2 separate regions of the Homo sapiens genome follow, and region 2 is linked to region 1. Evidence: fine-mapped expression QTL. A gene starts in region 1. The other region holds a variant in brackets. All regions are shown on one strand. Distances are from middle to middle. Region 1 holds the start of SUPT3H (SPT3 homolog, SAGA and STAGA complex component). Region 2 overlaps SUPT3H (SPT3 homolog, SAGA and STAGA complex component).

What was found. PIP is the estimated chance that this variant, and not a neighbour inherited with it, causes the effect.
Region 2: its variant is fine-mapped to the expression of SUPT3H in whole blood (INTERVAL, PIP 0.92).

Annotation. Positions count from the first base shown.
Region 1 is chr6:45,368,296-45,384,260 of GRCh38, forward strand. SUPT3H (SPT3 homolog, SAGA and STAGA complex component) reads right to left here and starts at 9,639. Exons shown (of 11, transcript NM_003599.4): 1 at 9,473-9,639. All of the region lies in intron 2 of RUNX2 (RUNX family transcription factor 2), which reads left to right. RefSeq lists silencers at 9,281-9,560, 9,881-9,930 and an enhancer at 9,571-10,114.
Region 2 is chr6:45,111,666-45,127,630 of GRCh38, forward strand. The region is part of intron 2 of SUPT3H (SPT3 homolog, SAGA and STAGA complex component); the gene reads right to left. Among named protein-coding and RNA genes, the nearest start is that of MIR586, 78 kb to the right of the region's middle. The variant A/G (reference allele first, on the strand shown) is at 6,965.

The sequences.
Region 1 (15,965 bases):
AAACCTGATCATTAAGCTAATAGCTAATATTATAACACACCTGTAAAACTGTGTTCCAGAGAAGAAAAATTGGCATTTACCTTTCAATTTAAAATGAAGGAATTTAAGGATGCACGCCTTTCCTCAGAAAATATTGCTATCAAAAAAAAAGTTTTAATTGTAGTGAAGTTAATCACAAAAAGTGAGTTAAACAAAATGCACTGAACATGCTACTGGGTTTCTAGTTAGATCTCATATTTTGGGGGACTAAATGACCACAGAAGAAATACCATGAAACATCTTTAAGCTTAAAAGACCTCAAATTGTTGAGAACCTTATTACTAGTTTCTGCACCCTCCAAACATCATCAAAATCTGGACTGTGAAAACTATCAGTCAATCCACTAAAAGAGAGAAGTTTTAATCTTTTCTTCTATATTGCTGAAGAAAACTATTTCAGCAGACCTATGTACTGATTTTGAGCATCTACAGAGTCTCAATTCTAATGATAACCTGAACATCTCACATAATATAAATTAATAGAAAACTTTTATAATTAGAACATTTTTATTTTCATAAAATTCCAAAGGCAGGAAACAATTATGGTTAAGCCAACACTATTATGCACTGAGTTTTCGTTTTGTTGTTTAAAAAAATAATCAGGTTACATCATGATCTAAATTTCTTCTGATGTGAAAAATAATACCAAATGGTCAATCACTGAGAATGAAAAAAATTAAAAATTAAATACATAAAATATCTATAAAAACTTCTAGACCTAGTGTTTAGAATAACACAAAGGTAATCTCAATATATTAATATATGCCCCATTTTAAGTGGACTTTGGAAGGTATTAAAAAGCCTGGTTTATAAACTTATCTCAAATCAGTCACACCTGACCTCCCCAGCCTCCTTTTCTACCACAGTCAAATCAAACTTTCACTATCTCCAGAACCATTCCATGTTCTTTTGAACCTTTACCCCTACAGTTCTCTCTACTTGCAATACCTTTTGAAACAATACAGTATCTCTCAACCTACCCAAACTCTACTGACCTAAGCCCATCTCCAAGAAACCTTCCCAGATATGTAAACAAAAGAAATTCTTTCTCTGACATCTAATTATTTTAGTTTATATTAGTTTAATATTAAATTACTTTAGTGCATACTAATTATTTTTGTTGAATGAGCCTCTGTCCCACAGTGAATCCCTCCCCTAGCTATGGACAGTTGACATCATCTTCTACTTCCAGAGAAATAAAAAGCTATCATTTAGTCATTCCCTCCACTCTCCTCCACCAAAGACAGTGTATCGTATCCTCCCTTAATTCCCTCCTCTTATAATAAAGACACACTCTTATTTAAAGCCAACACCACCAGTGCTTTGGATTCTTCATATCTAAGTATTTACGGGGCACCTACTACAGGCCAAACACCGTTCTAAGAGGTAGGGATATAGTAGTGACTAAGTCAGACAAAAAGAAATACATTATAATGCAAGAGACAAGCACATAAACAAATATAATTTGAGGAAATAACAAATACTATGAAATCAAAAAAACAAGTTGATTTCAACTGGGAGGTGGCATTTAATATAAGATCTGGGAGGGAGCTCTGGAGAACTTCCCAACAGAAAGAACAGCAAAGTACCAAAATCCTGTGGCCAGTGTGGCTAGAAAGATATGAACACAGGGGTAGCAAGAGGGCAGATCTTATAAAGCCTTTAGGCCACAGGAGTTTACATTTCACTTGAGTGTAATGTGAAGCTATTAGAGAATTTTGAAAAGGGAAGTTACTTGAAATGTTTTAGGTTTAAAAAGATAACTCCAGCAGCTGGGAGAATATACTATATGGAAGCAAGAGTGCAATCAAGAAGACCAGTTAGGAAGTTATTGAGGTTGTGCAGACAAGAGATGACAGTGGGTTGAATTAGTTTAACAAGCGGAGATGATGAGAAGTGGTCAGATTTCTGGAATACATTTTGAAAGCAGAACTGATTTGCTGATGGATTACACGTGGGGTGTGAGAGAAGCGCAGTCAAGGATGACCGAATTCTGGAGCCTTAGAAACTGGTTGAATGGTGGTGCCATTTACTGAGATCCAGAAGACTGGGAAGGAAAAAAAAAACAGTTCAGTTGGGCCTATGTTAAGTTTGAGACAACTATTAGACATTCAAGTGGAGATTTTAAAAAGCTGCAGAAGCTTTGTGAGAGATGTTGTAAAGCAGAAAACTGAAATAAAAGCCATGGTCACAAGATTTTTGTTAAGGATAATTAATCAATATAATAGAACTTTGTATAAGGATATAAGGATCAACTAATCTCATAAGTTCAGTTTCTCTGTCAGGAATAATTTATCTCACAGGAATCCATATAATGGGCACTAAAAAAAATCTGAATTGAAAATATCAAAACACCCTGTAAACATGAAAACTACCCCCATCCTTTCTCTCTGGATGATAAACAGCTAAAACTGTGCAGCATTACATATCCTACCTGAGCATCTTTTTGAACAGACATAGGAGCCCAGTGATAGACTGCTCCGAGACACAGGAGTTTCTAGCATATCCTCCTTCTTTAGTCTCACATTAAGTTTCTATTCCATATGCTTTCATATCCAGTACTCTCACAGAAAAATTGAGTTTAAAAAAAAAATTTCTTTGCAAAAACAGTCCCTAAGGTGCACTGCAAATGTGCCTATCAGATTATCCTTAAGCCCTGACAAATGGCACATAGCACACTTACTTTTCCAACATTAAAACACTGTTGTTCTTACACAAACTTAATTAAAGAGTTACTTAATGGTTAACTTTTGAGATATGTGGAAGATTTTGGCAGCAATTATACTCCTAACAGTAAGAGGTAAGTGTATTTGACAAACATGTCAAAAAAATAAGCAGCTCCCTTAAAAATCAAAACTCTCTTCCAGTCTAGAGTCACATTTCAGAAATATTAAAGCTTATGAGAATTCTGCATTAAACATAAACAATTTACAAAATATCTGATGTGTTTAAAAACAGTTTATGTGACCAAAAAGAAAAAGGACTGGGGGATTTACTGTAGGCATGTAAAAAATAGAGGAATTTGGAGTTTATAAAGGGTACTTCACCAGTATTAGCTCACTTTTTTTTTTTTTTTTCACAATTACCCTACAAGACAAGTATTCTCCCTCTACCAATGAGGAAACTAAGACTGGCTGAAGGTCACAAATCCAATAAACAACAGGCTTTGATCCCAGATAGCAGATAACCTGAAATATTCAGGCCATTTAGATATACTATGTTTTAATAACAATCCTCTCATTTTAGTGCTTTAGTTTTTTCATTAGTAAAAGATCTCTATCTCCTAAAACACTAAAATATTGTGAAATTAACTGAAAAGTTGTAAACATAGCAGTCAGGGGACTTACATGGTCATTAAGTTATCTTGGAGACTGATGACTTTAAACACTCAGTTAAGAAATTCTTTGTTTAAAAGAAAATCTTAGGTAGATGGATAAGCAACTATAACAGACAAACATATATGCAAATTGGTGGGAGGGAACCAAAGACATCTGAGCAGACTTCAGAACTACAGTTTGAAAATCACTAATTTCCTCCAAATCCCTCATTTTTCAGGTGAGGAACTGAAGTCCAGAGGGGTTTCTTGAACTGCCCAAGGACACACTACTATTTAGTGATACAAGCTGGGACTAAAACTGAGGTCCCCCGACACCTGGTCCAGAGTTCTTTCTACTATACATCAAAGAATATACAAATAAAAGTTTATCATAACTAACCCAAAAGGCCTCCACAATGTGTATGTCACAGTGAACTGTGTTGTGAAATATTAATATCTGACTATGCCAAACCACAATGGAAGCAGTAAAGAGCTAGGCTCTGGAGTTAAATTATAGGCTCTAACACTTACACATGACCTTGGGCAAGTTATGCCACCTCACTGCCTCAGTTCCCTCATCTCTAAAATGGAGATTAAAATTACTTCTCTTATAGGTTACATAAAATAACATACGTAAAGCCCTTAGTAAACCGCCTTGTACATATAAGGCATTTAGTTCATGCTGATGATGATGATTAACTCATGCAAAAGCATAGCTTCTTGAAAATATATCACAAAAGATTACTGTTAAACATGTATATTCTCAAAGAATGTTATGACTAAGAGTAGACCTTTAAAGACTAATATGAATAAAGTGAAATATACAGAATTCAGTCATAAAACCACTATAGCATTTAAATCAGCAAAAGTACATTTCAAGATTTTTTAATGATTTATATTTGTATGTTATTTTAGTTTATAAAGTATATTCACATAAATTGTTTCAATTTACTGTCCTGTGAATTCAACAGCATCTTTTCAGTAACTCCTACATACCATACACCAAACAGAGTACTATTTTCTTTTTGAGACAGGGTCTCTCTCTGTTGCTCAGGATGGAGTACAGTGGCACAATCTCAGCTCAGTGCAATCTCCACCTCCTGGGCTCAAGCAATCCTCCCACCTCAGCCTCCCAAGCAGTTGGTACTACAGGCACAAACCACCAAGCTCAGCTACATTTTTTTTTGAGATGGAGTTTTGCTCTGTCACCCAGGCTGTAGTGTAATGGCACAATCTTGGCTCACTGCAACCTCCGCCTCCAGGGTTCAAGCGATTCTGATGTCTCAGCCTCCCAAGTAGCAGGTGCACGCCAAGACACGCGGCTAATTTTTGTATTTTTAGTAGACAGAGTTTCACCATGTTGGCCAGGCTGGTCTCAAACTCCTGACCTCAGGCGATCCACCTGCCTCGGCCTCCCAAAGTGCTGGGATTACAGTTGTGAGTCACCGCACCCGGCCCAGCTAATTTTTGTTTTAAATTTTTTCTAGAGACCAGGTCTCACTATATTGCCCATCACTCTTAGGCTCAAGCAACCCGGGCCTGTCTTGGCCTCCCAAAGTGCTGGTATTACAGGCATGAAGTCACAGAGCCGGCCACGATTTTCATGTTCATTATCTTATTTAACCTTCACTACCCATTAACTATGGGCCAGGTATTTTCAGAGGGAGAACTACAGTACAAAAAAGCCTCACAGACCAATTCTAGAAAGTAAGAGCCTCATTAGTATAACCTATTAGGTGGGAATATGTTTGGATAAATGAGATACAACGGAAGGAACACATCAAGTGCCCAAGAAAATGTTGGTTCTCCCTTAGCAGTAGTATGGGGTTGTTTTCCGTAGAAAATATATTGTGACCAGATCAAAAAAGCACCATTACTGTGACTTAAAATATTATTTGTGTGTGTGTGTGTGTGGTTTTTGAGACAGAGTATTGCTCTGTCGCCCAGGCTGGAGTGCAGTGCACGATCTCGGCTCACTGCAACCTCCGCCTCCCGGGTTCAAGCGATTCTCCTGCCTCAGCCTCCTGAGTACCTGGGACTACAGGCATGCACCACCATGCCCGGCTAATTTTTTTGTAATTTTAGTAGAGACGGGGTTTCGCCATGTTGGCCAGTCTGGTCTCCAACTCCTGACATCAAGTGATCCACCCATCTCAGCCTCCCAAAGTGCTGGGATTACAGGTGTGAGCCACCACACCCAGCCTGTGACTTACAATATTATTTGTAAAAGAGAACTGTCTTCAGTAATAGTGCCTATTATACACTATCCATGCTGTTACACAAAATTTACACAACAATTTTTGCAGGTCACTCTTTAGTGGAGGCTGAAGGTAGACAAGATGAGACAAAACCAATTCAATATAAAAATGTTTGTAAAGTAAGACGATAATTTTTAAATGTAATTCTCATTTGATGCCACCAACAGTCCTATGAGAAAGCGGGATGAGGATGGGTACTAATTCCATTTTACTGATAAGGAAATTGAGGCTCTGATATTAATAAGTTAAATACCTTAACTGAAATGACAAAAGAATGTGCCAGAAAAGGGCAAAAGCTAGGTTTACAGAATTGGGTCTTAGTGCTCTGTTCACCAACCCACATAACATCTCAGAACATTATTATCACTTCTAGATTATCCAATAAACTTAAGGCTACAGCAGCTAACAGTTACTGAACTGCACACAACCCATCACATGAGTTATTTAAATTAACCTCTTATGAACCTAGAAGCAGATGCCATTACCATCTTCATTTTATAAATGAGGAACCCAGTATTCTTAGGAAGATTAAATAATTTGTCCCAAATCACATGGTTAGGAAGCAGCAGAGCGAGAACTCAAATCAAGTGTTAGAGCCTCAATAAAATATTTTACCCACTTCAGTATAAACTTAATATAATAATGCATATGGCTGAATTATTTTTCATTAAGTAAACTGTAAGCAAAACCCTTCTTTAACATTCTAATACATAATCAGATTTCTGACGGATTTCACTATTCAACCTCACCATAAAATAAAATCAGTGTTATTTCAACACAAATACTCAATCACCTGATTTGACTGACATAGACTACCATGCAGTCACCCCCACCAAAAGATGATTTTCTTCCAGAGGGAACCAAAACTCAAGCTGCTAAAGGTTTATATTCAAAGCAAAATTTTAAAATTATCAGTGGCTTAAATGGGAAAGTCACTTGCTGGCCTTATTCCAGGTATCTTATTTATTATTTAGACACAAAAACAGTAATTTTGTCACTGTTTTAAAGTATATTTCTGGCCGGGCACGGTGGCTCACACCTGTAATCCCAGAACTTTGGGAGGCTGAGGCGGGTGGAGCACTTGAGATCAAGAGTTCAAAACCAGCCTGGCCAACATAGTGAAACTCTGTCTCTACAAAAAATACAAAAATTAGCCAGGCATGCTGGCATGTGCCTGTAATCCCAGCTACTCGGGAGGCTGAGGCAGGAGAATCGCTTGAACCCAGGAGGGGGAGGTTGCAGTGAGCTGAGATCGCACCATTGTACTCCAATCTGGGCAACAAGAGTGAAACTCCATCTCAAAAATAATAAAGTATTTCTGATATTGCAATGTGGTTAATCATCCTAAAACTATATATTACAAGTCCCAACAAGGCTAACAGTAGGGTGACATTATGATGTGGTCCCAATTCGAACATTTTGATAGTGAAAGGGGTTCTATTAAATAAAATAATTGTGCTGGAACAATCAGGCTTTATACTACGACTGTCTCAGAAAAATTAAGATACTATAGTCACCCATAAAAGCACCCCATTCTGATTTGTATATTATGAGCTATTCTCTCCATCTGATTTAACTCGTGAGCTTTAAGTTATTGCTCCAGATCTAACAATTATCTTCAGCCTTAAGACCAAGAGCATCATTTTTTTTTTTAAAGAGACAAGGTCTCCCTCTGCAGCCCAGGCTGGAAGCCTGGCCTGACCATGATTCACTGCAGCCTTGAACTCCTAGGTTCAAGAGATCCTCTGGCCTCAGCCTCCCAAAGTGCTGGGATTACAAGCATGAGCCAACGTGCCTGGCCCAAGGGCACCATTTTACAGACATCAGGCCAAGGTTAAGGGTGCTACCGCTACCTATAAAGGTTTTTTATTTGTTCTTTTAGTTTTATTTTCAAATTTGACTTTATATACACTTGCTTTAAAAAAAAAAAACAGATGCACATATTTCAAGTAAAGTAATTTTGTGAAACATCTATTACCTAATTTCACTTATCTCTCCAAAAGATTTGGATAACCATAAAACTAGTTCTAAAATGTCCTAATGCTCAAGAGTTACAATTTTTCAAATCGCTTTATTACACAAAAGGTTAAAAAAGAAAAAAACTTGAATAAGAGCTGGAAACTTCTCACTGAAAAACCAACCAAAGTGGTAAAAGATAGCAGAAACCGACAATCACAAAATAGTACAATAATGTTTAAAGAAAACTCCAGTTAATACTGTCATAGCTCTCTGAATCTGGCATTAGCTGTACAACCTAGGAGACAACGTTTTGCTTTAATTTGTCAAGATGTAAATAAGTACTAACAGACCCATGGTCTGAACTGCAGTATTTGAATGAAAGGCATTATTTGAATATAATTACAATTCCCTATGGCAATAAATGTTCCAAAGAGCTGGCTTATCTGATTTAAAACTCAACCATATCAAGACTCGGAAGGACTCTCAAAATCTAAATTGTAGCCCTGTGCTGTCCAATGCAGTAGCTACCACTAGCCACATGTGGGTATTTAAACGTAAATCAATTTATTAATTTATGAATAAAATTAAAAATTAAGTTCCTCAGTGACACTTATCACATTTCAAGTGCTGAAGAGCCACTGTGCCTAGGCTACCACTAGTGCCTAAAGGCACAGATTATGGAACATCTCCATCAAGGCAGAAACTGCTAGTGAAAAGTGCAGCCCTAGACTTAGGCATACTTCGCTCCAACGTCCCGAATATCCTGAGATAAGAAACTTTCCATAGCACAATGAAGAGCATTCCATTCTTGCAAAGTACTCTCACGAACTGTTTCTCATAGGCAAATTCAGCCTCTTTGAAACATTCACCAGAAATTCCCCAAGTTTTGTCCTTCAAGTAAATCTTTGCAGGGCGAATTTAATTCCTCTTCCAGAGTCTGCCCTTCACATATACTAAGACCCCAGGTCCTCTCCTTCCAAATACATACATACATATATACACATACATATACTTATATACACACATATGTATATACATATATATACACACACATTTCTTTCTACCGAAATAACTTAACATTTCTATTAGCCTCTTGGAGAAATGCTAATTTATCCACGTGTACAGTAATACTACGTCCAGGATCGTCTGAGTGTCAAATATTACATATCACTGTCTTCATAACTTCACTCTCACGTGTGAGACCAAGTGTCCTGATTCTCTGAGAAAATAAGGTCACAGTCATTCTGAACTCCTAAAACGTGGAGAGCAAAAGCAGAGCTAATATGTACTGAGCAGCACCTGGCGCTGTTCTAAGCGTTTAACGTGTATTTTCTCATATAATCCTCACAATTCTGAAATAGGCTATAAGATCGCCATTTTACAGACCAAAACAAGGCAAAGACAAGCTAAATAATTTCCCCAGGGGTCACAGACGTGAGCTCACCCCACAGAGAACACAGCGGATCTTTTCCTCTTTCTGGATGCTACACTCCCACTAACTACCTAACTCTTCTCTCGCCGTGCCATAAAGCAACAATTTCCCTCTTTAATGATTCCTCCGGCAGCCCCCACACTACCTAGACGACCCGCGCACCCCGCTTCTCAGCACAGCCCAGCCCCCCTCACCCCACGCCCACCCGCCAAAAGGGAGGAGTCGAGAGGCAACTCCACGCTCGGCAGCGGAACCAGGGCGCTGCGCCCGGCCAGCGCCTCCCACAGCCGCCCTCCCTTCAACACTCCGGCGTAGACCACGAAGACCCAGGCAGCCGCCCTCGAGCCGGGGCCAGGGCGTGGCCGGCGCGGGGGCCCAGCGACGCTGGGATCTCCGCTCTGCGTCCCTCCCGGCTCTCTGACGTCTCCCCCGCCCGAATCCCCGCACCGCCCCCCGCAAGCCCTACAACCTCTGCTTTAAGAACCCTTGGAGGCACTGCTGCGCTTCCCGCGAGGAGAATGTGGGGGTGGAGATGGTGCGGTTTCTGCTGCTGCGGCCCGGGACACGCTTGGAAAGGGGCGGGGTGGGGGACTGAGAGTGTGGAGTGTAGAAAGGGAAAAGGTGACTCGGCTGTGTGACGGGGCGATGGGGGGGGTACAAGATGGCGTGAGCCCGACTCTCGGTGGGGCGGGGGTTGCGGAGACTGAGGAGTAAGCGATACGGACGCCCCCCGCACTGGCAGTGCGGGCGCATGCGCGCTTGGCCAGGTGGCGCGCGCTCTCCCAGCCCGAGCGAGCTACTTCCGCCACGCTCGCCGGGGGCGGGGCGTTGTGCGCGGCCTTCAGGGCCCGGCTTGGGCAGCGCTGAGCCACGCGGCGGCGTTTAGAGCTGGGGACGCTGGGAGCGGAGTGGGGACGAGCTGAGATCGGTCAGGGTGTACAGGGTGCAGGCTTGAATTCTTTAGGAATTGGGCCCGAGAGGGCTAGGATTTTTGAAGGATTGGGTGACCGGCACTGGAAGTTGATTTTCAACTCCGAGGAAGAGATTCACCGTTCTAAGCTTCTTTCCAGGAATTGGAGTGAACGGGATCTTAATGGGATTGCGCGTTTACAATGGTGAAGGGAAACGGAGGGGTCTGAACGCTCCCCGCAGGGCCGCAGTACAGGCGTGTGGATGTGGAACCCTTTCTGGGACGGCGAAACCAGCTCTTACGCCGCTTCCGCGCGCCATCACTCCCTACCCTGACCTCGCACAGAATCTGTTTCATTAATCTGCTATTAATGTTTTTTCCCCAACTCATGTTACTAGACGCAGGCGTTTAACTACCATGTTTTGTTATTGAAAACTTTTTCTACTTGAAGGCTTTTTTTTTTTTTTGGACGATTCTGTGTTTAGATTTTGGCCTGTTCCTCATTTTAAAATCTTGCACCCCCAGTATTGTACTGTACATTCTGTCCTGCCACATTTAATTGATATAGATGTAGTTCTTTAAATAATACAGTAGTCGTAAGACAATGCTTTCAGTCTTTCACTCTTTATATTATATGAAGTCTTATTTATATTTAACATTCTTATTGCCTGCTTAGAGAAGAAAACTGGTTATCCATGCTCACCTTCACACCTGTGTTGTCAAATACTATAAAATACTGTATTTTATAGGGATTCAAGTATTAACCCTCACCAAGTCTTTTTAAGCATCACTGCTTCAGTTATTTTCTTGCCTATAGATACTGTGAGTTCTGAAATCCCTTCCTTCTATTTGCTTAAATTGTTTAAAATAGCAACTTATTTGGTTATTTCCTCTGTGGATTGTAGTTGAGTCTGCTAGTGTTGTGTTTGATTCTCTTTAATCTCCCCAACGCTTCAATATTTGCCAAATACCTAAAATTCCAAAAGAATAGATATATTTAGGATGTGAGAGCTCAGCTTGATGTGTAAATCAGGGATCAATTCATTGCTGAGCAAAGTGTGCAGTATAAGGGAAAGTAACAGAGTGAGTATGGTGATAACTTCTTACATGGGAAGACTGGTTGAAAGCTCTTTTGAGTACATTACCAAGAAATTAGTTAACAGAAGATTAAGAGAAAAATTAATGTTCACATCTAAAGAAACATAAAAGTAGATCATTTCAATTAAAATTATGTTCAGTTAATGTTATCATAGAAGTTCCTGCACTGGAGTTTCACCTGCATCAGATGAGTACCTGTTTGATCCAGTTTATCAGGATAGAATCCAGATCATCTTATTCTAGGATACTGGTGTCCAGCCTGCATAAAATCACACACAGGCCAGGCGCGGTGGCTCACGCCTGTAATCCCAGCACTTTGGGAGGCCGAGACGGGCAGATCACAAGGTCAGGAGATCGAAACCATCCTGGCCAACATGATGAAACCCCGTCTCTACTAAAAATACAAAAAAGTATCCGGGCGTGGTGGCACGTGCCTGTAGTCCCAGCTACTCGGGAGGCTGAGGCAGGAGAATCGCTTGAACCTGGGAGGCGGAGGTTGCAGGGAGCCGAGATCACGCCGCTGCTCTCCAGCCTGGCAACAGAACTAGACTCCGTCAAAAAAAGAAAAAAAAAAATCACGCACAACAAAAGTTAATGAGAGTGACACATGGAGAAGGGAAACTGAGTTAAGGCATTGATACAGGAAGTTTAAAAATTTATTCTTAGGAAACTGAATTGGGCTGTTGGCAGAGATCTGATTTTTAAAGTCACATGAGTTAACCAGGTTCCTACCTCCTGGAATTTCTTAAAATCCATTTTTGAAAATCTGATTTAGCCATAATTTTGCTCATAGTTTGAGACCATTGCTATATACAAAGGGCCAAAAATATTTTTGCATTACATTCATATCAAATATCCTAAACTATCAATGGTACTAGGGTATCTTAATTATAACAAAGCTAAAACAGCGAAGCTGTTGCTGAAGTTAAGGCTTTGATGACTACCACCTCTCAGAAAAACAAGTGATTTTCCAAGGCATGTGGGGAAAACACATCAGGAGACCAAGTTAATTTATCACTCCACAAAAATGTCTCCATGACCTGGACAAAATTGTTAAAGAAAAATGAAGCATTGTTAGCGTAGACTTTAACGTTCCTCTGGCATGTAATATTCACGTAGACTCACTAGTGCAAAGAGAAAGTGCATGTATCTAAGTAAAAGTGCCCATGGGCATCTTAAAATGATTAGGTAGTAAGCCCACATTCTCAAAAGAGCAGCAGAAGTCATGGCTAATATGGAACCATCTCTCTGATTCCATGGAAGTGGTTTCTTTTTATTATTATTTTTTGAGACAGAGTCTCGCTCTGTCACCCAGGCTGGAGTGCAGTGGCCCGATCTCGGCTCACTGCAACTTCCTCTTCCCCAATTCAAGCGATTCTTCTGCCTCAGCCTCCTGAGTAGCTGGGATTACAGGCGTGTGCCACCACGCCCGGGTAATTTTTGTATTTTTAATAGAGACGGGGTTTCACCATGTTGGTCAGGCTGGTCTCAAACTCCTGACCTTGTGATCTGCCTGCCTCGGCCTCCCAAAGTGCTGGGATTACAGGTGTCAGCCACCGCACCCGGCCAGAAGTGGTTTCTTCTCATGTGGATGCTACAGTGACAGTTCAGGTGACTTGGAAATTCTTTGTTGTTTGAGATTCATAACTCTTACTTGCTAGGATGTTTGTGGGGACTTTTTATTTTCTATTTATCAATTATTTCATCCTTTGCTATATTTGCCTTCTATTTTTAATGCTTAAGTTGTCACCATGGAAATAAACTGGGTAGATTGCATATTGTTTAGAACCGTATATTGCAATTGTTGCTATATTTGTTTTCTGACGTTGAGAACTGTTTTCCAATTGCATTCTCAAAAGTATCTTGTTTTATGTTTAGAGCAAGTTGTTCTGACCAAAAAGATTACTCAGCCCGGTAGTACCTGAGCAAGTCACTTAACATCATTGCACCCCAGTTTTTGTATCTGTGGAATGAGATGATAGAACCAAATGAACTAAAACCTTACAGCCCTAAAATTCTATGTTCCTTCAAAATGGGAATAGCCAAAGGATGGATACTAAAGTTGTGCAGAATAATTTCAGCATTTGTGCTACAAAAATTACAAAAGTATTCAGGGCTTTTCTTTTTTTTTTCTTTTGAGACAGGGTTTCCCTCTCTGTTGCCCAGGCTGGAGTGAAGTCATGCAGTCATAGCTTACTGTAGCATCAACCTTCTGGGCTCAAGCAATCCTTCCACCTCAGCCTCCTCAGTAGCTGGGACTACAGGCATGTGCCACTACACTCAGCTAATTTTTAAATTTTGTGTATAGATGGGGATCTCCCTAGGTTGCCCAGGCTGGTCTCAAACTCCTAGGCTTAAGAGATCCTCCTGCCTCAGCCTCCCAAAGTGCTGGGATTACAGGAGTGAGCTGCCATGCCCTGCCTGATGTTACACATTTCAAAAGAAAAACCAGCGTGAAAAGATGTATCAAATATGCTGATGCACTGCAGGGGGTTGGGGTGCCACAAAATTATTAAGGTGTAATCAAATTGGCTTCCCCTACCTTCCAATTGCATTCATAAGGAAAAGCAGTACAATGATTAGAAAAGAAATGTTAAAAAATTTTACAGTACCAGGTAGCTTGTAGAATTGTAATCATGATCATCCTCTTAGGGACCTATCATTGTAGATTTCACAGTCCAGTGTCTTTTAAAAGTAGTGCTTGGCTGCTGAAAAAATGATTATGTTTTTGAGAGTCAGAATGGTAAGGGAACCATGGAATACCAGAGTTTCAAAGAGCCTTTGAGCTCTTCAGGCACATGAAAACTTAGTTGTTCCCGTTCCCATGGAATCCAATATGTAAAACTCTTGTACTGGAATCAAACAACTTCTACATTTCAACGGATTGTTGTAGGCCTACCATGTACCTGACACTATTCTCGAAGCTGCAGATAGAGCAGTGAACAAAACAGACAAAAACATATGCCATCATCAAACTCACATGCAGAAGTTAGACAATAAAAATAAATGCCTAAAATAAATACCTAAATTATATAGTATGTTAGAAGGTCATGAGTGTTATCAAAAAAGTTTATACAGGAAGGGATGTGGAAGGAGACCAAGCACAGGAGAAATGGGGAAGATGTCATTTTTAAATTGGGCAGTTGAAGCAGGCCTCACTGAGAAAGTAGTATTTGAAGAATGACTTGAAAGTGAAGGAGATACCTGCACATATCTGAAGAAAGAGCATTCCAGACTATGAGAACAACTTGTGCAAACCGTAGGGTGGGGACAGGTCTGGTAAGTTGAAGCAACTGCCAGGAGGCCACTGTAGCTAAAGAAGAGTAACCCAGAAAGAAAATCATGTGATATGAGGTCAGAGAAGCACTAGGCCAGATGGTGAAAGGCCTTGTGTGCCTGACACTGAGAGGCTATTGGCAGAAGATTGACATCGTAAGATTTAGGCTTTAAATTGGTTACCTTGGCTGCCAGGTTGAAAATAGTCTGTAGAGTGACAGGTCCTATTGCAGTAACCCAGGCAAAAGATGATGGTAGCTTGTACTAGGGTTGTTACAGTAGAGGGCTTAAGACATGGTTGGGTTCTGGGTATATTTTGAAAACCAATATGATTTGTTGACACATTGGATTTAGGGTTCTAGAGAAAGAGAGGAATGAAGGATGAACAATTTTGTTCAGAGCAACTGGAAAAATTGATTTGCCTACATTAGCTGAGATGGGGAAGATTGGGGTTGGAGTATGCTGGGCAGGTGCAAGAGATCAGGAATGCAGTTTGGGGAATAAGTACATAATTAAGCATGATGTTTGTATTATCTTTAATGTTTTGCCATCAAAAATAAATAAGTTCTGGGCCGGGCACGGTGACTCAAACCTATAATTCCAGCACTTTGGGAGGCCAAGGCAGGTGGATCATTTGAGGCCGGTTCAAGACCAGCCTGGCCAACATAACGAAACCTCATCTCTACAAAAAAAACACACAAAAAATTAGCCAGGTGGGGTGGCACATGACTGTAATCCCAGCTACTTGAGAGGCTGAGGCAGGAGAATCGCTTGGACCCAGGAGGCAGAGGTTGCAGTGAGCCAAGATAGCGCCACCGCACTCCAGCCTGGACAACAAAGCAAGACCCTGTCTCAGTAAATAAATAAATAAGTTCTTAAGGAAATGAGAACTTTGAATTTGTAACATTCTATAATAATTAAATTAATTTCTAATCTTGCTCATGTAATAAAGTTCCATTTAGACCTATCTAATATATGTCAAGGAATACCTTTAAGAAAGTTTGAGAAAAGCTAAACATCCCCTTGTTTAAAAAAAAAGAAAAAGAAAAATATTTTTTGGTCTATTAATCCATGAAAGTAGAGAATAAAGTTAAGACGAGTATACAGAAACATCCAGTTCTCCAAAGTATTTTCATTGAAACTGAATCTATTTCAGTAAATTATTCAAATAACTGCCTTCTTTTTCTATTACATGTGGAAACAGGACCAAAAGTTATTTGGTGTCATATAAAATAAACTACAGTGTGGCTAAGGCAACCTGTTATTCCTACTTCACATTCTGAAGGTGGATGCAACAAACCTATTTTGACTAAGTAATGCTCAGATCATTTGTTAATAGTAATCAGGGAACTGTACCAACAGGTTTCACCAGGTTACTTTGTTTTTATTTTTAGCTTTTTACAGATGCAGCATAAGCTGTATTTTCCTCTTTCCAGAATATGTTTAAAACCATTTCTTTAACTCAGTCAGGTATAGTGTAAAAAATAAAGGCTTTGGTGTCACTTTAGCCATAATGCTGGGCAAGTTATTCAACTGAAAATAAGTGTCCTCCACTGTAAAATAAGGATAGGAATACTTAATGTAGGAAGGTTGATATCAGATTTAAATGGGAAGTTCCTGACACATTGAAAATATTTAATAATTTGTAGTTATTATTGTTTTCCAGGGGTGGGGGGAG
Region 2 (15,965 bases), 260 kb before region 1:
AATAGCATATGGGAAATTTATTCCTTCATCTGAAGATAATGCTTTTCTATTCTCTGATGTTGAGGATGAAGTTCATGAGAGTCAGTGGATGAGTAGGTGCCCAGCTGACATCTCACTGTAGTCACGGCCCCCCCACCCCCACTCAGGGAAAGAAATAGCACCAAACTAAATGACCAGCCAGAGATTTGAGCTCAGAAAAATGGATGAAGTTCACAGGGCTTGTATCCAACTAAAAAGATTACAATAATGCTGCTAGAAGTCATACTATATTCTGGCCGTCAGCTACAAAGTAGGAAAAGTCAGTAACCATGAAAATATCCTGGAAGTTAGAGGATCTGGTTCTAGTTCCCACTATGCTATTAAGAAGTACTGCAATGAGCAGGTAACTTCTCCTGGCACCTCAGTTTCTCAGCAGTAAAAGGAGGGGACTAGATTAGATAATTTTAAAGAAACCTTTTCAGAAACTTTATTTTGAATCAAATATATCTGATTCAACTATAATTCGTAAATCTTAAAGACTGTCTTCAAGAATGGGGCAACACTGTTATGAGAAAATCAAATTGCACAGAGTAAACTGTGGGAAAATCATGAAATTAAGAAAAAGAAAAACATGTTAAAAATGAGTAACAGAACGAAATAAATAAATAAAAATAATTAGAGGAAGGAAAAGAAAGCTATAGTTTATCCCTGGCCTTATATGTGGAAATAATTTCTAAGAAACATGTCATTGTTCCTTAAATTTAAAAAAAAAGGTGGGGGGTGTTGAACATATTATCACGGAATTTTACATTATTCTTTTTCAATTAAAAGAATTTAACAGGCCTAACTTTGAGTCTAAAATACTTGTTTTTAAATTTCCAAGCCCTGATTAAGAATAGAGGGGAAGGACTGATTAAGTTTCTAACAGAGGGGAAGGACTGATTAAGTTTCTAACAGAGGAGAAGGGCTGATTTAGAGGGGAAGTGCTGATTAAGTTTCTAACAGAGGGGAAGGGCTGATTAAGTTTTAATTAAAGAGATTCTGAAAAAGAAGCAAAGGGGATAAGTTTGGTGATGATCTGTGGACAGCCTGCTGGGCCAGTCACCAAGCATACAAGGCCTACAAGCAGATCTACTCATAAAGCATCTAGAAACCAAACATAAAGAAAGGATAAAGAGATGTTTCTTTACTGCCATGTGTACATCTTCTTGGATGCTGAGTTGCTTTCAATACTTCCCACTGGCTACAGACTCTAATGTGGTTAAATCATTCTGGATACTCTGGTTAAGTAATTGCTGTGGTCTTGGGAGCTAGTCACTTTTTTTTTTTTTTTTAATTAGTTCTGGTTTTTTTGGATGTTTTCCTACCCCAGGTAATTGACATTACTTTAGAATGGACACTGTGTGACTATTGCTTGGTTTAAGAAGGCTCTGGGTAACTTGCTGTCCCCAAAAGAAAGGTTTTTTTTTTTTCCGTTCAAAGCATTTTTTGATTACACTTTTATAGACTAGGTATTACTATAATACCCAAGAATTTCTCCTAAATGGAATTAGAGTGAATACCAGGCTACAGCCCTACCATACACTTTAGTCAGCTAAACTAGTACTAGATGATGTATGTGAACACAGACATCATACTGTTGTTTATGTCATTCTTACCCAATATCTGTTGACACTGATTTGTCCACTATCCAAAGTGGGGAATAAAAGTGCAGAAGTTTGGCCGTGATCAGTCATTTAATGCAATTGGAAAGTTATAAACACTACAAATTAGCCTTGCTCTTCAAATTTTAACAGCTCTTTCACAAATCTATGATTTTACCCACCTGTTTTCAAAGGAAGAAATGAATTTTATTAACAATAGCTCTAAGAAACCCCAAGTGATAGGTAAATCAAAATATCAAATAAGGCTGGGCGTGGTGGCTCAACCCCAGCACTTTGGGAGGCCAAGGTGGGTAGATCACCTGAGGTCAGGAGTTCCAGACCAGACTGGCCAACATGGTGAAACCCCATCTCTACTAAAAATACAAAATTAGCTAGGCATGGCATGGTGGCGCATGCCTGTAACCCCAGCTACTTGGGAGGTTGAGGCAGGAGAGTCGCCTGAGCCTGGGAGGCAGAGGTTGCGGTGAGCCGAGATTGAGCCATTGCACTCCAGCCTGGGCGACAGAGCAAGACTCCATCAAAAAAAAAAAAAAAAAAAATCAAATAAACATCTAAGACAACAGATTTCCTAGCAGTGATGATTTTTCTCATTGCTTGCTTGATTTCTCAACAACCATTTCCCCATTCCCCTTCTGATAGTAAACATTCATATAATTTAACTGAACTTTGAGAAAACTTTTAGAATTTTACAAAACACCATGAAATAAATATAAATATGTGAAGATATATAAAAAGCAAAATTAAATTATTTATGATATAAAATAAATAATGCTGACGTAAAAAAATACAAATATACTAATATACATATATGTTTAAAATAAAAGATAAAACAGTATAAAATTTTGAAAAGGTAAACACATAATACCTACAAGTATTAATCACTCAATCAACAAATATTGACTGATTGCCTGGTATGTGCCAGGCACTGTTCTGGTTCCTTGGAACATATCAGTGAACAAAACAGACAAAAAAATGAGTCAAGTTTACATTCCGATGAGGAAAGGACAATAAACAATATAACTAATGAATTACTAAATAAATAATTTGTATGTTAGAAAGATGAGAGAAAAAAACTTAGAACAGAATCACGAAATGTATGCAATGGGCAGTGTGAAATATTAAAACATGTATTTATTAAGATCTGATGTGTGAAAGAAATAGCTTTAAATAGAAAAAATATATAAATCAGAAAATTTTTTTAAAAATCAAGATTTACATAAGAAAGCTCATCCATAAATATTTATAAGAAAGCTCATAAAATAAAACTCATCTACAGTGCATGAAAATGTGCATCTGAGAAAGTTTACAAAACTAGCAGAATATCTTTATGAATTTCTTCTAACAATTTACAGGGCATTTTTCCTCATATATCCTACATTTCTAAGAAGCAAATATTCCCATCTTCAAACTCTTAATAGATAGCAGCATAAAGCAAATTATTATAAACCGTCCCTATTTGAGGAACAGGAAAGATCTATATAGCAATCATTGAATGTTAGGTCAAAAAATAATCTAAAAGATTACGTAGTCCTTTCATTCAGTTTTAAACAGATGAAAAATGAAAGCCCAAGAGGTTAAATAGCCATCTCAAGGTCATAAGTCCAGTTAGAAGTAAAACTAGGACTTTTACCTCATCCAGAACTCATTGTACAACAACACGCTAAATGAACATCTATTAAGCCTCCAAAACATTTAATGGACTTTACTATCTTAGATTGACTGAAATTTAGTCAAAAAACTAACTTCCTATAACATTGAAAACAGATACACTGTAATCACAATAACACCTCATAGTCATAGAGGACTTTTCTCACCTATCATTTAAAGCAAACTGTAAAGCATGCAAACAGGAAAGTTTCTCCCATGTTACATAAACATGGAATCAGAGAGAGTCAAGAAAGTTAAGACATTTACCCGGGGAGTCAGCAACAGTAAGCGTCAAGATTACTTGGTATGAGATAGTCACAGAGATAAGAGAATTTTGTACCATCAGATCTTTAGAAAATTATCAATATAAAATGGATATAAATATGGCATACTGCAACAACATTTTTCAGATTGACAGTGTCCAGAAGAAAAAGTATTTTGTAGTTAAATGAGCTTGGAAAATGACATATTTTATTCTTTTCTAGATTTGCAATACATGTTACCATACTAAACACTCTGAGAGGTTCTGAAGAAAAGAAACTCTTGATTTTAAACGTATTTACTGTGTATATAATCCTTTTCTAAGCCCATGGAGTTACATAGCATTGAAAAAAAATTAGGAAACACTGATTTAAACAAACAAACAAAACAACTTCCAAAATAACTTAAGGACTTTAGTGAGAGGATTCCAAATAAAATGCAACCTAAGATTTTAGAACTCCAAAGCCAAGTTCTTCAGTTTCTAACAATGACATGATGATGGTGGTGATAATGGCAAACATTGTGAGCTTTTTAAAAATGCACTTACATTCAACGAATATTTATTGAATACTGGGTCTACATCATGTCAGGCACTGAATATTATACTAGCTGAGAATTTTCAAAGTTCCCACAAACTTAAAGACATGACTGATTTTCTGTAGCCATGGCAATAAACAGCCACCAGAACCAGGAACAGACTCATTCCAGTAAACACACCCTTGAGTGCCAACCAATCAACAACATTCTCATCTCTCTTATTATAGATTATGTCAACTCCAGAACACGACCAATCCCTGAACTCAATGCTTCCTGAAAACCCAAAAGATCAGCAGCCTTCCTTGCTAACAAACTGTGCTTGACCGGCATGTATCTCTCCTTTATGATAAGAAGAAATAAATCAAGTTTTCTGTTTTTATTTCAGATACTGAATGACAGGCTCGTTATTTTTCACAGCATTTAAGGAAGTTTGCCCTCACAAACTAGTCAGCCTAGCCTCCCTTCCTCTCCTTCTTCTCACATTTTATTTTGAAAGATTCCTAACCAACAGAAAAGCTGAAATAACAGTGGAATGAACACCTGTAAATCCTTCACCTAGAATCACCAATTATTAACATTTTAGCACAACTGCGCACGTTTCTCTCTCTCTCTTAAAAATTATACACACATACACTTGTATCTTTATCTGTATTAATTTTTCTTTAAACAGTAAGCATGTATTAAGTGCCAGGTATATTTATATATGTCATTTAAACCTCTTAAAGACCCTGCAACACACTATCACTATGCCTGTCCCTCTGCATCTTGGAGAGATATTTGTTCCAGTAAGTGAAATTCTGGGTTTTTAAAAATTAATTTCCATATGCTGGGATTAGCTTTGTCCCCTGGAACTGATGAAATGACAAATCCTTTTACATGACAGGTCTTCAAAAGTATGAAGAAAGCTTACTTTAAAGGTCTGGTTTTGTTTTGTTTTTGCTAAACAGCATCTGTTTTAAACAGCTTTATTGAGATATCATTTACATACCATAAAATCCAGTTGTTTAAAAGTGTACAATTCAATAACTTTTAGTAAATTTACAGGGTTTTACCATCATCACCACAATCTAGTTTCAGAACATTTCCATCATTCCAAAACAATGTCTCATGCCCATTTACAGTCAGTCCTATTTCCCATCCTCAGCCAAAGACAACCACTAATCTACTTGAAGAAACCATACATCCTCTCTAGGCTTCTTCAAGGTTAAAGACTTCCTATTTCTTATCATTTTGGTCTCAATGTAAATAGCATATCTTTGAAAAGACTTTCCAAAACTACTACCACTTTCAATTCTCACTTGAATCAGAGTAGTTTGGCATTTATTTGATTTATATATTTAGGTCCTACCCAAGTTTTCATTAAAAAAAAAGTTATAAAACTTTTAGTAAACAAACCAAAGGAATGCAAACCTCTAAGTGTTGAACAAGTCATAGGCCAATTATAAAGCCCTGTAGCAAAGAGATATCCTTGAAACAACAGATCCAATAATCAACACTTTGTGGGCTGGGAAGAGTTGATCCAGGTTTCAAGCTGTCTTTGTCTGAAATATAACTCTCCATCTCATCCAGCAGAACATCAGCACAGATGACATCAAACATCTCATTTAAATTTTTACTCTAAAACTGTGACATTACCTTAATGAAAGTAAAATTATTTTATACTGATATCAATTGTGAGCTCATGCAAGTTCCTAATAATTATAGATTCCAAAATTTTTCTTGAGATTGATGTCAAGTTCATCAGGGTATAATGACTAGAATCTCCTTCACCCAACATTTTAAAAAATGAAGCAAACTCATGCCAAAATTACAACTTTATTACACTTCCTTACAAAGCATTCTAGAAAAACCACCTGGCAATAATTAATACCACTATTGTACATAATCTAATTTGTCACCAAAAACAATGGCTTTGCTCTCAGAATATGAATAAAACTATAAATTAAAAAATATGGAAATAATGCAACTTGAAAATTAATTGTGTAAATATCTGTGACTGCCAGTAGGAGAACACATAATATATTCCAGTTGTACTACATAATATATTCCATTAGTTTCTTCACAAAGGGCTTTCGCTTGAATCAGGAAGTATATAAGACAATTGTCTTATAGTGATCAGTCACTTTTAAGAACATTAAGAAAAAGTTCATCTCTAGTCTCAACAATACTGTATTCCTCAAATAAAAATGAAATTTAGTATGCCCAGAAGAAATGTGTTTTCAGTTTGTTCTCTAGAACATGGATAAAAAAGTGATGACATGAGAAAGACATTAAGACACAACTCTACTGAGAATAAACACATAGCATACATTAAATGATCTTTTACTTTAGTATAAAGTCTATAACTTAAAAATTTGGCATGCATAAATAATAACCCTTTATAGATATTTATATACACTATTAACACTGAAACTCATATTAACCTTTAAATTTTACTATGAAAAGATCAGTATGTACTTGTAGAAGCTTACAATGAACATATAAAGTCTTTAAGTATACTGAAAATATTAGTGAAAACATACATCTCTGTATCTACCTACTACCACCCTGTACACGATTAAGATCTTCATAGGTACAAGCTCTGTGGTAGCAAATAAAAATATTAATAGGCAATACCAGGCAATTAATTATTTATAATAGTTAATATCAATAAAACAGTAATTAAGACCCTAGCTTAGAGCCTTCACAGAATCCTACAACTTTCAAACTCCTCTGTTTATTATATAAAAGTCTTTGACATCTGGCTTCTCTCTGGTTCCACCCTTATTTCTAGCCATGCACCATTTGTTCCTAAAATATCAAACTCCCTATGGACAGCTGACCACACAATAGGTTTCAGGTCTTCTCACTTTTGTACATGATATTTTCTCTGTCAA[A/G]TAAGTCTTTGTTTCTTCTTCCATTCAGCCAATGCCTTCCAAACTTAGTTCGAGGGGTACGACCCTTGGGAAATTTTCCATAATACTCATTTGCTGCTCTAAGGCATATTGCACTGATTGCCCTAACTCACCTTTCACCTCATATTATATTCATTCCCATTGCCAAGTAACTTTAAGTAGCCCTGCACTATAACCCTGAGCTCAACCCTGTTATGTTCTTTGGCCAATGGGATATTATTAGCAGCAGAGGCTAAGAAGTGCTTAAGCATTTCAACTTGCACTCTTGCACTCTGCCACTGCCATGAAAGTATGACAAGGCTAATCTGCTGGAAAATTAGAGATACATGAAGCAGAGCTCAGTCACCCCAGTTATCGTAGTTGAGTTATCATAGATCAGCTGGCAGTCAGCTGACCCTCAGATAGATAACAGAGCACAGCTGAGATTGGTGGGGTTGTCTAATCTACTGTCATAGACATATAATCATAAATGCTGAGGTTTCACAATGTTTTGTTATGCAGCATTATTGTGGCAATAAATAACAAATCCCACTCCTAGATGCTTCCATAGCACTCTTCACAACCTCCTCATAGTATAGTTACATAGTTGTATAGTTATGTAGTTACATAGTCATACTTTTACATGAACTAATTTGTCTCTATTCTCCCCTATGCATTTAGAGGAAAATAATCACCTGTTATTTAAATTTGTATTCTGAGCACCTAAGAAGATGCCAGTTGTATGTGGGCACTCAATGTATGTCTAGGGAAGAGAAGGTATGAGGACGGATTCACCTCCCAACTGATTCCACTATTATCTCAGACCACAAGGAGCCTTCCCTATGTTGTGAAAGTTCAGTGGGCACACAAACTAGATACTGTTAGAGCAGATTAAAACCTTAAGCATATAGGCTTTAATATATGCTTATTATATGTATATAGCTGCCTGTTGGATGAGCACAGATGGCCACAAATTCATGTGATTTGTGGGCATAATGTTAACAGGAAAGAGTCAATAATTGCAGCACTTTGGACCAAATAAAGAGTGGAATTAGGTTATGCAGTAAAAGATGCCAGGGCAGAGAATCAAAGGGTGTATTCCTAGAAAACTTAAGATTTTCACATGTAGAAGGAAAAATGTTTGAAATTTCATTAAACTTGGTATGCATTTGGGGCCAAGTAAAAAATATTCAAAAAGGAACCAGATTAATGATTTATTTTTTTTAAAGGCAGCAAATACTTTTAAAAAAGAAAAGGAAAAAAATGAGTCTGAAAATATATACAATTTAGAATCTGTTTAATAATGATAGTTATGACAAAATGACAATGAGTCGATTATATCCATAATACATACTGAGGATTTACTGTTTGCTAGACACCACTGAACTGATTCAAATGTCAAAATGACTCTAAAAGGTAAGTACTATTACTATTGCTACTTCAAGACTTGAAGAGGTTAACTAAATTACCCAAGTAACATAGTTAATAAGTGGCAGAAACGAGATTCCAAATCCCATCAGTCTGACTGCAAACTAAAAAAAACAAAAAACAAACAAACAAAAACCCTCTAACTGCTCTATAATATTGTCTTTCATAGAAACTGAAGAGACTTCGGAAGTAATTTATTTCAGTTTCCACCACAATAAAGAAAATTTTAAAAGTGAAAAGACTATATAGGCTAGGCATGGTGGCTTCTGTTTATAATCCCAGGATTTTGGGAGGTCGAGGAGGGAGGGTCACTTGAGCACAAGAGTTTAAATCCAGTCTGGGTAACAGTGTGAGACCTTGTCTAAAAAAAAAAAAAAAAAAAAAAAAGACTATATAAGCATATATCCAAGTTAGGGTGACTGGAGTAGGATGATGATGATACTTTGATAAAATTGGAAATAACTTTTTGACAACCAGTGTGGTACATGCAGAAATGCAAACCAATATATAAATGCCACAATAGTTGAATTCAGAAGATTAAGAGGAAAACTAAAGAAGTTGAACAACAAATGATGTCTATATCAATAACCAAAAAAAGGAATCTATTAAAAGGCTGAACAAATTCTTCCAAGTCAAAAGCAAATAACTGGCTTCCTCTATTCATGCAAATAGCTGTTTGCCACATGAAATTTATCTTGCTTTTAGGTTTCAAGAATTAAGGGTAAATATTAAAGCTACAAACCTGGGGAACTCCATAGTGTCTTTATGCATAAATCACATAGAAATTTCTCAGGTTCTGAGATAAAGTTCAGGAATAATTGTACTAAACAATGCAAAAATTTCCCAAGGCTAAAATTTGAACAATATTAGAACAATAATATTAGAACAATAATAAGTATAGGTTAACTTCATCATACTATTAATAGATTATAATACAAATATTACACAGAGATTAAAATTGATACTTTGGAACAGGTTGATTATCTAGGTATGTAATTATTATTATATTCAGAGGGAAATATTCCTTGCAGCATAAAGACACCAATACCATTCATATACTGTTTCCAGAGAGTTTGATAAACAGAAAAATTCCACAAAAATCTTGGCCCAGAAACTCTCCACAACCAGGATCTCTGATTTCCATAACCTCTAGATCCTATAGGAGTAAAAATTAGAGCTTCTCTTATGGTGAACAAATTTCCTATCTCAAAGCCCTTGGAGAACGTCCCATTTTTTTCTAGAGAGAGAATGCTTGGGCAACTCTGAGAGGAAAGAAGGAAATTGTGATGCTCTGTATGTCCTGGGGACCAGAGGTTTCCAGGATTCAAACAAATGTAAACAATTTGACTTCCTGAGTATTGACAAGGAATTAGAATATTAGATTACTAAATCTGGGTTTTCTCAGTTGCAGGAGTTTCCCTTTCCCCCACATTCCAAAGATTTCAAAACCCTATGAAATTATGTGGGGGGGGGGGTGGATTATCTAAGTATATCTTTCACAGTTGAATGACTCAAAACAATATTTAACATTTTAAATTAACCTGTTCATAATGCAGTATTCAATTCTTCACTAAACTCACATAACTCATTTCTACTTATAGATTTTTTTTGGGTTTTTTTGTTTTTGTTTTTGTTTTTGAGACGAAGATTCGCTCTTGTTGCCTAGGCTGGAGTGCGGTGGCGTGATCTTGGCTCACTGCAATCTCCGCCTCCCAGCTTCAAACAATTCTCCTGCCTCAGTCTCCTGAGTAGCTGGGATTACAGGCACCCGCCACCACGCCCAGCTAATTTTTGTGTTTTTTTAGTAGAGACGGGGTTTCACCATGTTGGCCAGGCTGGTCTCAAACTCCTGACCTCATGATCCACCCGCCTCAGCCTCCCAAAGTGCTGGGATTACAGGCGTGAGCCACCGCACCTAGCCAGATGTGTTCTTTAAAACTCTGAGTAAAGAAAGTTAAGTGAAAGATATCTTTCATTTAAAAACAAAAAAAAAAGAAAAATTAAAAATGAACAAATTGTATTTTCTACATATATTAACTTTAAAAAAGAAAATGCAAAATTAATCTATTTACCATAACTATATTTTCACACAGGTGTCACCTTTATTACGCTGTAAAATGCTAGAGCCTACAATAATCTATTCCAGATATGGGGTTGGGGTTGGGAGCAAGGGTTTGGCAAGGGAGTGGAAAAGTAACAAGGCTGTCTGTAGCACTTTTAGTACATGTTATAAGAATAATCCATAACAAAAAAATATTGATTCAATTCAGTATAACTACTTAAATTTTCTTAAAATCACACATACTTTATATAGTTAAAACCCTAATAAAACCCTAATACACTTTCTCAAAAACTTAGGAATAATTTCACAGTACCTAAGGATTAAGAAAAAAGGTTTTTAAATAAAATATTGATGTTTAAAATGTCTCTTTAAGCTATTTGCTAGCAAAACAAAACAACAGACTTTGAAAGAATACTAAACCCACCATCATTAATTTTATTTTGGTAACTAACTTTATTCCAATGACTTCATAACAAAGTTAACCTTTAAGGATAAATCACCATATACACCATTAAAACACCAAAAATAGAAGACAGAATTGCTCCTACTTCCATGACATTTTGTTTCTAATTAAAAAAAAATTTTGGGAGTATTGTTGAAGAGAATTCATATTAGAAGATATATCAAATTAAACGAGAGGCACTTCATGTCTATTTTCTAAGTTTATATCATACTGAAAACTGTGCTTGCAGACCCCATGAACAAGAATAATCATCCACAAATTGCTAGACTCTTTCATTTTGGATTGTACACTGAAAATGAAAGGTGGACATTTAGAGTCTACATGTTCTATTTTCAGCTTCATCATTAACATGTTTGAGAACCTGGGGTAAATTTCTTTACAACAGGTAAATATTCTAATACCCTATTACTTAATGGAAGCTAGGTCCAAAAGCTGACACTTAAGTGGAATACTAAATAAATATAGTCCTATTTTCTTTATTGGGTTTTCTGATTTAAAATTCTACCACATATATACATAACCATCTTAATTTACATATAAACTTAATTCACTTTAACAATATTCACTGAACATCAACCAAGATGAAAGTCCTCTCCTGAAGGCTGAGGAATGCAAATGTAAACACCAAGTCCTTGTGAACTCCAAAATTAGTACATACCACACTGGTAAATGAGATACAAATAAGCACACATGAAACTCTCTTTCAGTCAGTCTAATTTAATTAAAATTCTACTATGACAATACAAAAATCATCAATTTTTTTAAGTGTGAATTTTAAATTGTATCATTTATTTCTTTTTTTTTTTTTTCCCCAGATAGGGTCTCGCTTTGTCACCCAGACTGGAGTGCAGTGGTGTGATCATGGCTCACTGAAGCCTCCACCCTCTGGTCTCAAGTGATCCTCCCACCTAGGCCTCCCATAGTGCTGGGATTATAGCTGTGAGCCACTGCACTCAGCCACTAAATTGTACAATTTTTTTAAAGTACAATTAAAAATTTGTACTATTACAAAAAATAAAACAAAGATTATATATATATAATCTATTTTAACCTGTGTGGTGAAGTGTAACAGGTTGGGGAAAAAACTATAGGTGTAATCCAAGGGTCAGCAAATATTTTCTGGAAAAGGTCAGACAGTAAATATCTTCAACTTTGTGGGCTATAAGGTCTCTTTTGCACAATGGCCATCACAATACCAAAGTCACCAATGACAGTCCATAGATGAATGAATGTGTATAGCTATGCTGCACTAAAACTTATGAATGGTCACTGCAATCTGAATTCTGCATCTCACATAATTTCATCTCATGTAAGTGCTACATCTCATGAAATACTACTCATCTTTTGTTTTTTTCCCCAACCATTTAAAAATGTAAAAAATATTCGTGGTTACACAGGCTGCTGAACAAAAACAGGGAGCTATGTTGATTTCGCCTTCAAGCCACAGTTTGCCAATCCCTGGTATAATCAAACACCAGTATCAAATAATATGAATTAAGAGTGACTAGTAGCTGACCATAATTGCCACTGTTCAGAGAGGAGAGAAAGGAAAATATATTCAAATAATCAAGAACTTCTTTTAAAGAAGTATTTGAGTAAGAGCTTGAGTTAATGTAAGGATGATGATAACTCATTTACTGTAGCTATTATATTATTTAGTAACTGCAAGAAAACTGTTCCACTGTTAAAAAAAAACACTAATTTGTCAAAATATATGGAAAACAAGCAATCAACTTCATGTTCTTATTTAAATTGTAAAAGTACAGTTGAAAAATTGTACTGGCTGAGCACAGTGGGCTCAGGCCTGTAATCCCAGCACTTTGGGAGGCCGAGGCAGGTGAATTACTTGAGGTCAGGCGTTCAAGACCAGCCTGGCCAATATGGTGAAACCCCCCCCTCTACTAAAAATACAAAAATTAGCTGGGCATGGTGGTGCATGCCTGTAATCCCAGCTGCTTGGAAGGCTGAGGCAGGAGAATCCCTTGAACCCGGGACGCGGAGGTTGCAGCAAGCTGAGATTGCAGCACTGCACTCCAGGCTAACAGAGACTCCATCTCAAAAAAAAAAAAAGAAAGAAAAATTATACTATTTTTAAACTGTACAGCTTACCAATTTTTAAAATATTGAATATTCATGTTTAAAATAATAATAAAAAAACTGTTATAGGTTGAATTGTGTCCTTCCAAAAACAATGTATAAAAATCCTAACCCCTAGTACCTCAGAATATGACCTTATTTAGAAATAGGGTCTTTACAGAGATAATGAAGTTAAAACAAGGTCATTAGGGTAGGCTCTAGACGAATAGGACTGGTATCCTTACAAAAAGTGGAAATTTGCACAGAGACAGACACACACAGAGGGAAGGCAATATGAAGACGGAGGAAGAAGACAGTAATGTGACTGGAGTGATGAATCTAAAAGCCACGAAACACCAAGGATTGCTGGCAAACACGTAAAGCTAGGAGAGACAAGGAAGGATTCTCCTCTAGAGCCTTCAGAGAACAAGACACTTGATTGTGGATGTCTAACAACCTCAACTATGGGCAGTAAGTTTCTGTTGCTTTAAGTCACCCAGTTTTTGGTACTTTGTTATAGAAGCCCTAGGAAACAAATACACAAACTTATCAACGTATTAGGCGTGTTTTTCACTTTGTAATTCTATCACTATAGTAATCAAATAACATGTCATCATTTAATGAACAAAATTTTAAGTCCAAAATAAACCATGAATTATAATTGTCATGTTAAAATTAAATTGACTTTCTATGCATGATATGACTACCAAACATTTTTTTTCTACAATACTTTGAACCAAATTTTGTTTGGTTTTTGGGTTGTATTACTATTGATGGCAAATGCACACTACTGTGGAATGGGGAAAATTAAGTGGTAGAAATGCATGGGGTCTTAAATCTTCCTCTCATAGAGTATGGATGCAAAAGATTCTTGCATTCTAAAGTACCATTTTCAATAGTGCAACGTATCCACTTTCTTGCATCTCTTCCTGTTTTGATTTGTGATTTCAGGGATAGTTATGATGATAATATGGTACATGGGTCTCCACTTACACTCTTGCTCTGTGTCCTACAAATTTTGAGGTGGGCTTCAGCAAAACCTGGATCAGATTATGGCTTCAGTAAACTCTCATTTCTAGCAGTGATTTATTTTTCAGGTAACTGAACACAATAGTATGTGTTTGAAATACTGCATTAAAAATATAAAGAACTATTGACCTTAAACTATTACCAAAAAAAAAAAAATCTTTCTGGTTTTAAAAGACTTCCAATAAAAGAAAGTCCAAAATTGTATTACTCTTTACACTAAAAGTTTCCATTTTCAGTTATTCGTATCCCATCCATTTTTTTTCAGAAGTTTTGAAAAAGGAGATTCACATAGAATGTTGCCCAAATTTTCTGAGACCCAAACATGATCTCTTAAAATATGAACCAACAAGCTTCTGCATGTCTCTGAACTCAGATTTGTGCATTTCAATGTCACCTGGATGCCCAAATTTAAATTTCAGGGCTGCCTATCAAGCACAGTAACTGAAAACTTGCACTAAACTCAGAAGTGTGCAAAGAAGTAAATACCCATTGGAAAAAAACCTCTGATTTACAGGGTGGCCCATTTAAAACAGTTCCCATTTAATAATGTGGCTGTGTACAGGGCCTCTTTTAAATGGGCCACCCTGTATGAAGCTTAAGTCCAAGATAAAAAATGTCCTCCCTTGAGAATTTTTAAAACCCAAAAACATTGTAGGTTTAGTGGTTATTTTTAAGGTTTTAGATGGTTTCTTTGGACTCCTTTAGAACTGAAAAAAGATGGATACACATTTAAAAAATGAAATGTTACAACCACACATCTGTAATGAGAACCAGTGCCAGTGGATATTTTTAAAACAAATTAAAACGGTCAATTTTTTTTTAACTTAGGCAAACAGCTGCTATACACACAGTGCACAGTAACTACTTTTCAGCAAAAGTTCAGAAGGAATTTCCTAATGAAGATTTACAGAATGTTCTGGGATTGATAATTAAGGGTTCCCCCAAAAGATATGAAGAACAGTGTTAGCGATGTAAGGATTAAGGACACTGACTATGCCTATCCTCTAAGGGAGAAGCCTGGAATTTAGAATAAAAGATACACACTAAAAACCACTGAGGGAAATCAGGATAAAATAGGTACTGTATATCTTTTCTGTACTGACTTCAAAGTGTTTTGAAGGATTCCATAATAATTTCTAAAGTTTAAATATCTCTGCAATTTAGTTCATTTTTTAAAAAGGGGGAAGAGACGATGCGAGGAGAAAAAATGGAAAAAGCTTGCCTAAAAAAAATTATATTGATACAAGAGATCATGAGTTCTGAAAATTCTGACTTCCACTGTGTACCTGACTTGAATAATGCTGTTTTCCCTCCAAAACCAATATTATTAATAATAAAAAATAACTATGGGCTGGGCACAGTGGCTGACGCCTGTAATCCCAGCACTTTGTGAGGCCAAGACGGGCAGATCATGAGGTCAGGAGTTCGAGACCAGCCTGACCAACATGGTGAAACCCCGTCTCCACTAAAAACACAAAAATTAGCTGGGTGCAGTGGCGTGTGTCTGTAATCCTAGCTACTCAGGAGGCTGAGGCAGGAGGGTTGCTTGAACCTGGGAGGTGGAGGTTGCAGTGAGCTGAGATCGTGCCACCAAACTCCAGCCTAGGAGACTGAGTGAGAATCCGTCTCAAAATAAATAAATAATAATAAAAATAACAACTATGAACACTGTCCTCATACACTGTCATCATACAGTGACATCATACACTTCCCAGGCACCTGACATCATTAAATCATTTAAACTCCACAACAATACTATGAGGTAGGTATTATTACCTCTTCTTCACAGATAAGAAAAATGATGCACTAAGAGATTAAATAATTTGTCTAAGGTCACAAATATGGTAAAATTACCTTTCATGATTCAAACAAAGACTCTAAATCCAGAGTTAGCATTCTCAAACACACACTCATAATTTATGTTTTTTTCTTCATGTAGCTAGGAG